2 linked regions of the Homo sapiens genome follow. The protein of the gene in region 2 interacts with the protein of the main gene of each other region in a pairwise test. Each region holds a gene or a part of one and is shown on either strand. Other genes may lie near its edges.

Region 1 (3,511 bases), on a different chromosome or scaffold from region 2:
GAGAATCTAGAACCTTTTCTATACTGTAGAGGCTTTCTTGAATGCCTCTTTGTCCCCACTGTAGCTCTTTTTGTTTAAACTTGTCAGTTGATCTCTTATGGCAGCCTTGCCCACCTTTGATTTATCCCTTATACCAAGGTTTCTCAATTTCCACAGTCTTGACATTTGGTACTAGATAATCCTTTGTTGTGGGGGCTGTTATGTGCATTGTGAGATGCTGAGCAGTGTCCCTGGCCTCTACCAGGAGATGCCAGTAGCATCCCGAGTTGTGACAATCAAAAATGTCTCTAGACATTGCCAAATGTCCCTCGGGGCAAAACTGTCACCTAGCTGAGAACCACTTCTCAATCTGACCCTGAATTATCTTTGAGAAACCAATATTTACTGCAGTATACCCTTAAATAGTTGAGGGCTCCCATTGTCTATGAATAAACTCCCTGGCATGACATATTTTGCCTTTATTATATCATCCAACACCCCCCACCAGCACAGGCAGTTAGGTACCTTATCTGCTGCTGACAGTCTCGTCCAGGGTTTGTCTGCCCTCCTGTCATAGTCCTGCGCTTTTGCTACTTCCACGTAATCACTGAATCGTATCAGAATTTTTCTGTCTCTTAATTCATCAACAGTGGGTCTCTGATTAAGCTAAAATTAAAGATCATCATAGTTAAGTATCACATGCCAAACTAGCTTTTTTGAAGTACTCTGAACAAACAGCACTTCTCTTAAAAAACAAAACAAAACAAAAAAAACCTGAAACTGGAAAATATAACCCAAATACAAGCAATCTCTAATGTGAAGGGCTGAAATTATATACTGTACTCTTAAATCACAATCCCCCTTCCTCCAACATATTTTATCAGAAGGAGTCACACCCCCAGTAGTACATAGCACCAGCTCAAGGAATGGTTAGTGAATTAACTTAGATTTTATGGCATCACTGGCTTCAGATACAATTAGATAAGCTTTTTAAAAGTACTAATAAAGTTATTATATGTCCAGCTTAGGAAGGATATTCTGTTAATTTCAAGAGAATTATTATGGAGCAGCACAACGAAGAAGGGGAATCCAGAACACTTGAATTTAGAAATGGTCAAGGCTTTAAAAGTAGATTAAGATTTATAGAGTTGCTACCTGTATTGGCCATAGTAAATGTTAACTGTTTGAGTCACAGAGAACAAACCTTTGAGTCTAATAAAGCTTTCTGCAACTGAGGAACTTCTAGACATATTGGAGGTGAACAAAAGCGATGAGTGTAAAATGTGACTAAAACACTGATACCCAGGTATGCTTTTCCTAGACACTGTAAATTAAGAAAATGCCAATCAACTTCTGGCTTCCACCTGAACATAAGTAAAAAATGTCATGTGCATTGTGCACCTCTCCAAGTGCTACCGTGCTAGGGAAGGACTTCGTCCATAGGGAACGTCAGAGGGAGTTAATTCATTGTTGCTGAGCAAATATCCTGATTTAACTGATGCCATGATGTCCAGGAGAACATTATTCATGATCACAGAGTGATACCTAGCATTACCCATCCCACCTGCTACCGAAGCAGCTGTTCTCTAGACCACCTTTTATTATTCAGGCAATAAAATGCTTATACTACCTTTCTTGTCAATCTTTGCTTGATTTCTCTTCTTTCTTCCTGCTCTGTCTGATCATTCCTTTCTGTGAAAGATTAAAATAGGAAAAAAAAAATAACAAAGAGAAACAGGTTGAAACGTTCTTCTCTTCAGCAGGGAAGTGTTCCCAAGATATCCATATTTCTGGGAGCTGAAGTTAATTCCACATCACTCATGGTGTTTTCTTCCCACTTTGTCAGTCACTGCTCAGGAGATCATGGTCTCATTACACAGAAATACTTGTACTAAGCAAAGCTTTGCTGTCATCCCAACCTGGTCTCCTCAGCCCTTCTGTGCATTAGAAACAACCACAGATATGGCTGCTGTTTGTTTAAGGAAGTAGACACCTCTGTGTCTGTCTTTCTCCCCAAATATCTTTATATTTACATCTAGCACTTAGATGCCACATAAAAAAAGCTGTAGTAGACTAAGTAAATAAATGTATATGTACATTTCAATATAAATAGCACTGCCACTAATTTTTTTCCTTAATAAGCGTACAGACTTTTTAACCAACATAAAACATGGAACACCTTCTTCAGCTCCTGGGCAGCATATGCTTGCCTGGAATTTATATGTTCAGACTATATTTCAAATCTTAACACATCTATGAACCTCGCTGACTCTCCATTGCTGAAGCGTGAACACTGTTATATGACAGTGCCTTTTAAAGGAGCCCAAGTCCCTCAGCAAAATTAGCTTTGCTTGGTAAGTTGTGACTATTAACATTCAAGCTGTGCTCGCACCTACCCTTGGAAGCCAAAAATAGACGAAAGTGCTGAGATATAGTATAAAACGTAAGCTTCCCCCTGGGATACAAGATAATGGCTGTCCTATTTCTGGTGTTCTCTGTTGCTAAATAAAGCCTTATGTCCCTGACCTGAACATAGCTCCATTCCTAGGAAAGAGATTTCAACAATCAGCACTCCTAGAAACACTGGTAGGTTTTGGTAAGGGAAATCCTGCCACTTGCAATTAACACAATTTCACATTATCTGCCTTTATGTAAAAGATGCGTTTCAAATATTTATACATTTGTGGGATTGGTTATATGAGAGTTTAATATATTGTGCTTTCCAGTAATTTTTTTTAAGTGAGTCATCTTGGATTAGGGTGTTTTAGAAAAGGTAATGAAATCCTCTTTCTGCTTAATTCTTTATACAAGTGAGAAACCAGAAGAAACCATACTTTTAAGGTATCATCAGAAAGCTGATACAATTAGAGAGACATTGTGAAAGTGTCCAGACAAGGCAAGCCATGAGGGATTTACGTGACGTAAAATGTTTCAGATTTCTTTAAAATAGGCCATGGGCAGCTCCCAAGTGCAGCTTCCATGTGAAAAGATTGAAACAAAGTCAGATCTTTTTTTTTTTTTTAATCCTGAAAAATGCCATAATTACTACGAAGGTCACCAGCAGGGTCTTTGGAGAACTGATCTTTGAAAGTTCCTGTCAGAGTGCTGCTTTGTGCCAGGCGCTCTGTTGGAGACCTCCTCCAAGAAGTCCTCCCTGTTAGCCTAAGCCCACAGACCTCCCCTTCTGAGCTCCCCTTAGTGATATGTTTATGGATTTCTTATTTCCAGACCCAGAACACCCTCTGCATTATACAAAGCAAGGGACCCATAATCAGGACTGCTATACTCATATTTTCTGGAAATAGCTCCAGCAGCTTGGACAGTTATACCTGAGACTTCCATGAATATCCAGAAATGTATTACTGCTTCTGATGCAGTAGTTAAGAAGATGGGCAATGGAGTTAGGCAGACCTGGGGTTGAACTCTAGTGCTATCCTTTTCCCAATATTCATTTATTAAAAAGTGCAAACCTCACAAATATGTTGCAATGATTAAATGAGGGAATATATACCAAGTACTGAATATAGTCCCT
Region 2 (5,027 bases):
AAAATACAAAAATTAGCCAGGCGTGGTGGCAGGCGCCTGTAGTCCCAGCTACTCGGGAGGCTGAGGCAGGAGAATCACTTGAACCTGGGAGGCGGAAGTTGCAGTGAGCCGAGATCATGCCACTGCACTCCAGCCTAGGTGACAGAGTGAGACTCGGCCTCAAACAAAAACAAAAAATTAAAAGATTAAATAATTCATACCTATTACCAAGTCTACAATCAAATGTTCTCTTTTTTTGAGACTGAGTTTCACACCCATTGCACAGGCAGGAGTGAAATGGTACGATCTACACTCACTGCAACCTCTGCCTCCTGAGCTCAAGCGACTTTCCTGCCACAGCCTCCCAAGCAAGCTGGGACTACAGGTGCACACCACCACATCTGGCTGTTTTGTATCTTCTGTGGAGACAGAGTTTTGTCATGTTGCCCAGCCTGGTCTCCAGCTCCTGGGGCTCAAAGGATCTGCCTGCCTCAGCCTCCCAAAGTGCTGGAATTACAGACATGAGCCACTGCACTGAGCCACAATCAAATTCTTCAATGGTCTCAAAAATACTTTTTTAAAGTGTGGTTTGCTCTTATCAAAATCGCCATTATGCACAAAGATTATATAAAAATGAGGCTGGGCACAGTGGTTCACGCTCACGCCTGTCATCTCAGCACTTTGGGAGGCTGAGGCGCAGATCACTTGAGCTCAGGAGTTCAAGGGCAGCCTGGCCAACATGGTGAAACCCTGTCTCTACTAAAAATACAAAAATGAGCCAGGCGTGGTGGTGCGTGCCTGTAATCCCAGCTGCTCCGGAGGCTGAGGCAGAAGAATCGCTTGAGCCTGGGAGGCGGAGGTTACAGTGAGCAGAGATTGTGCCACTGCACTCCAGCCTGGGTGACAGAGTGAGACTCCATCTCAAAAAAAAAAAAAAAAAAAAAAATCTAAATCATATCTACAAAGCTTCAAAGAAGCACTGAAAATTTTGTTAGGTTTGCTGTATACTACAAAAATACATTCTTTTTTTTGAGACTGGGTCTAGCTCTTTCACAAGGGCTGGAGAGCAGTGACATAAACATGGCTCACTGCAGCCTTGATCTCCTAGGCTCAAGCGATCCTCCCACCTCAGCCTCCCACGTAGCTGGGACCACAGGCACGCACCACCACACCCAGCTAAATTTTTGATTTTTTTTGTAGAGATGGAATCTCATTTTGTTGCCCAGGCTGGTCTCAAACTCCTGTACTTAAGCAATCCACCCATCTCAGCTTGCCAAAGTGCTGGGATTATAGATGTGAGCCACCATGCCCAGCCCCAAAATATTTCTAAACATTTCCTCTTTTAGGGTGATAAAAGGTTAACAAATCACTAGATTGTTAAGTGTGAGATCCAGGAACTGGCTCTGCCACCTCTCCTACTGCTTTCCTTGTACAACTCATTTAGCTTTCTTGGATATGTTTCCTCAAAACAAAATGAGAGGGCTTATGTGAAGTTAACAAATAATAAATGTTTAAGAGTCCAGGTGTGGTGGCACACGGCTATCGTCCCAGCTACTTGGGAGGCTGAGGCACAAGAACTGCCTGAACCCGGGAGGCACAGGTTGCAGTGAGCAGAGATTGCGCCATTGCACTCCAGCCTGGGTGACAGAACAAGAATCTGTCTGCCCCTCCGTCTGCCCCCAAAAAAAAGAAAGAAAAAAGAAAAAGCTTAAGAGTTTTATATTTCATACCTGATGAGCTCGACAAATCAAATCTAAATCATGACGATTCAGAAATTTACTGACTACATCAGCTCCAAAAGTAAAGGAAACACCACGATCATTTTCTCCCCAGCCTTGCACATCCTTATCTGGATCAGACCATAGCAAATCACAGAGCAAACCTTTAAAGGACAGAAATACAGCAATTAAGAACAAAATTTACAGATTTATAGAATATAGCACATCTACATCAAATTTCAGTTCCTTTCTTGCCCTCTTACCTTTTACTAAACAATGACCATCACTTGCCTAAGTATTCCAGCCTATGTAACTTATACTTTTGTTAAAGCAACCATACAAACCATACAAATATAATCTTCCATGGCCTCTTAAGGTAGTACTTTCCAACCCTTTCCACATATAGGAAATATGTGCATGGCACTTACAGCACAACAATACATGGAAAAGGCTGTTCATCTTTTGGGTAGTTTCTCCATATGAATAACCAAACAACCCAGTGGTATTTCCTCAACAGTTCATCCTTTCCTTACGGTTCCACTGTTTCTGAGCACCACAGTCTATTCTGTTAGTCTATTTTACTTATCCCTGAGCCAATAACAGACTAGAGCTTTTTAATAAGTCTTTATATTTGGTAGGGCTAGTATCCTCCATTTTTTTTTCAGGATTGTCTTGGTTACTTTTTGATCTTTTGTTCTTCCACATAAACATTAAAAACAATTGCCTAATTCCATAAAAAACTCAATTGTGATTTCACTGGAATTGTATTTGATCTACAGATCACTTGAGCGAAAAAAAAACATTTTCTACTGAGACCCTGAGGATTTTTTTTTAAATGTGGAAGAACAAAATCAGATCAGATCCTTGACTTTGGTAATGTTTGGAGCCCTGGAAAAGAGGTCAGGGTTAAAAATATTTACTTGAGTATTGTCATCATATTAATGGTAGTGGAAATCTTAAGAGGGACTCAGACCACCTTAGGAATACAAAGTGAGAAGACCAGCAAATGAATTCTGAGGAATTCAAACATTTAATAGGCAGGTAGATGAGGGAGAATGAACATTAGGTATTGAGAAGGAATGATCAAGACAAAGGGCTTAGTATAGTAAACGTATCCCGAAAGGGGAAACAATCGTCCTAAAGTAGGAAATGTGCCATGAACAAGGGCAGTAGGACGAAGACCAAAAATGTGCCACTTACAATTAAATCATCAGACCTCAATGCAAGTTTCTTGGTGATTGAGGGTAACGGAGTGGGTAAAAGTCCAACTGTAGTGATATTAAAAGAAGGGTGGATGTTGAGATGGTGATGGTGATTTTCTAAGAATTGCAGTGGCTAAGAGAAGATACATATATATTTTTTTGAGACGGAGTCTCGCTCTGTTGCCCAGGCTGGGATGCAGTGGTGCAATCTCTGCTCACTGCAAACTCTGCCTCCCGGGTTCACGCCATTCTCCTGCCTCAGCCTCCCGAGTAGCTGGGACTACAGGTGCCCGCTACCACGCCCGGCTAATTTTTTGTATTTTTAGTAGAGATGGGGTTTCACTGTGTTAGCCAGGATGGTCTCGATCTCCTAACCTCGTGATCCGCCCGCTTCGGCCTCCCAGAGTGCTGGGATTACAAGTGTGAGCCACCGCGCCCAGCCAAGAAGATAATTTTTAAAGAGTTAAGTCAGTTTTAAGAATTTTAAATAATCCATAAACATCATAGTATGGTTTAGGAGGAAAGGGCATCTTCATTTTCAGTTACAGTACATCATATCTTGATAGAGGCATTATAAAACCATTTGTAGAATTAGTGGCAATGTATTCAATCTCTATCATTGATATATCCCAAGCTCCCTGTATGTTGTTTTAAGAAATTCACTAGCACACAAAATCCACTGGAATAGTCAGTCTCAATTCTTAAGCCCTTTCTGGTTGAAGCTGACTCTTCGAAAATATACACCCACCCAGTGCTTAATAATGCTTTCATACTTTCCAGCCTCTTTCCAGTAGAAAGCTAAGGTATTAAGAATCTATAATTTCTTTTTTTTTTTTTTTTTTTTTGAGACGGAGTCTCGCTCTGTTACCCAGGCTGGAGTGCAGTGGCACGATCTCGGCTCACTGCAAGCTCCACCTCCCGGGTTCATGCCATTCTCCTGCCTCAGCCTCCCGAGTAGCTGGGACTACAGGCGCCCACTGCCACACCCAGCGAATTTTTAGTAGAGATGGGGTTTCACCGTGTTAGCCAGGATGGTCTCGATCTCAAGAATCTATAATTTCAGTGAGACAATAAAACTGTATAAAATTAGAATAGAGTTTGAGGTTTAGGAAACATGACACTCTGGATGCATTAAAAAAATCAAATAATGGTAGCAACAACAATCTGGAATTCTTTAACCTTAACAGGGTCTAGATAAGAATTTCAGGCCAGGTATGGTGGCTCACGCCTGTAATCCCAGCACTTTGGGAGGCCGAGGTGGGCGGATCACCAGAGGTCAGGAGTTCAAGACCAGCCTGGCCAACATGGTGAAACCCTGTCTCTATTAAACATACAAAAATTAGCTGGGCACAGTGGCAGGAACCTGTTATTCTAGCTACTTGGGAGGCTGAAGCAAGAGAACTGCTTGAACCTGGGAGGTGGAGGTTGCAGTGAGCCGAGATCAGGCCATTGCACTCCAGCCTGGGCGACAAGAGTGAAATTCTGTCTCAAAAAGAATTTCAGAGTCAAGATTTATTGTTTAATGAGCTAGCATCACAATCAACTAGGCTGCTTCAAATAATGTATTAACTTATAAATTAAATTTCTGAATGTTGCAGACACTATCAAAGATCAAAATAACTGTTTTCAGCATCTTGAAAACTTCTCATTAAAATACGCTAAAATAAATAAAACATGCTAAAAACAGAAGCCTAGCATATCACACTAGATCAGTTTACATCTGAACTATAAACAGATATTCTGAAGAATGACCAGTAATACATATTTATATTATACCTTATTTTAAAAATAGCACTTTGGGTGTTTTTTGAAAGAGAGGGTCTCACTGTGTCACCCAGGCTAGAATGCAGGAGCACAATCACAGGTCACCGCAGCCTCAACTTCCCAGGCTGAAGTGATCCTCCTGCCTCAGCCTCCTGAGTAGCCGCGGTGCTGCGACATGTGGCTAATTAAAAAAAAAAATTTTTTTTTTCTCTGTAGAGATGGGTGTTATGTTGCCCAGGCTGGTCTCGACTCCTCACCTCAAGTGATCTTCCTGCCTTGGCCTCCCAAACTGTTGGAATTACAAGCATGAACTAGTGCACCAGGCCTAAAAACAGCATTTTAAATAAAATACTATTTAAATACC

Evidence for each region. The genes of interacting proteins can lie anywhere in the genome.
Region 1: the proteins of PPP1CB (region 2) and PHACTR3 interact in binary tests that used the Homo sapiens proteins (3 or more experiments, as listed by UniProt).

The regions. Positions count from the first base shown.
Region 1 is NC_000020.11:59,838,529-59,842,039, reverse strand, and holds part of PHACTR3 (phosphatase and actin regulator 3), read right to left. Parts: intron 1,672-3,511; coding exon 1,610-1,671; intron 646-1,609; coding exon 505-645; intron 1-504.
Region 2 is NC_000002.12:28,785,492-28,790,518, reverse strand, and holds part of PPP1CB (serine/threonine-protein phosphatase PP1-beta catalytic subunit), read right to left. Parts: intron 1,862-5,027; coding exon 1,710-1,861; intron 1-1,709. UniProt on the Homo sapiens protein: Protein phosphatase that associates with over 200 regulatory proteins to form highly specific holoenzymes which dephosphorylate hundreds of biological targets.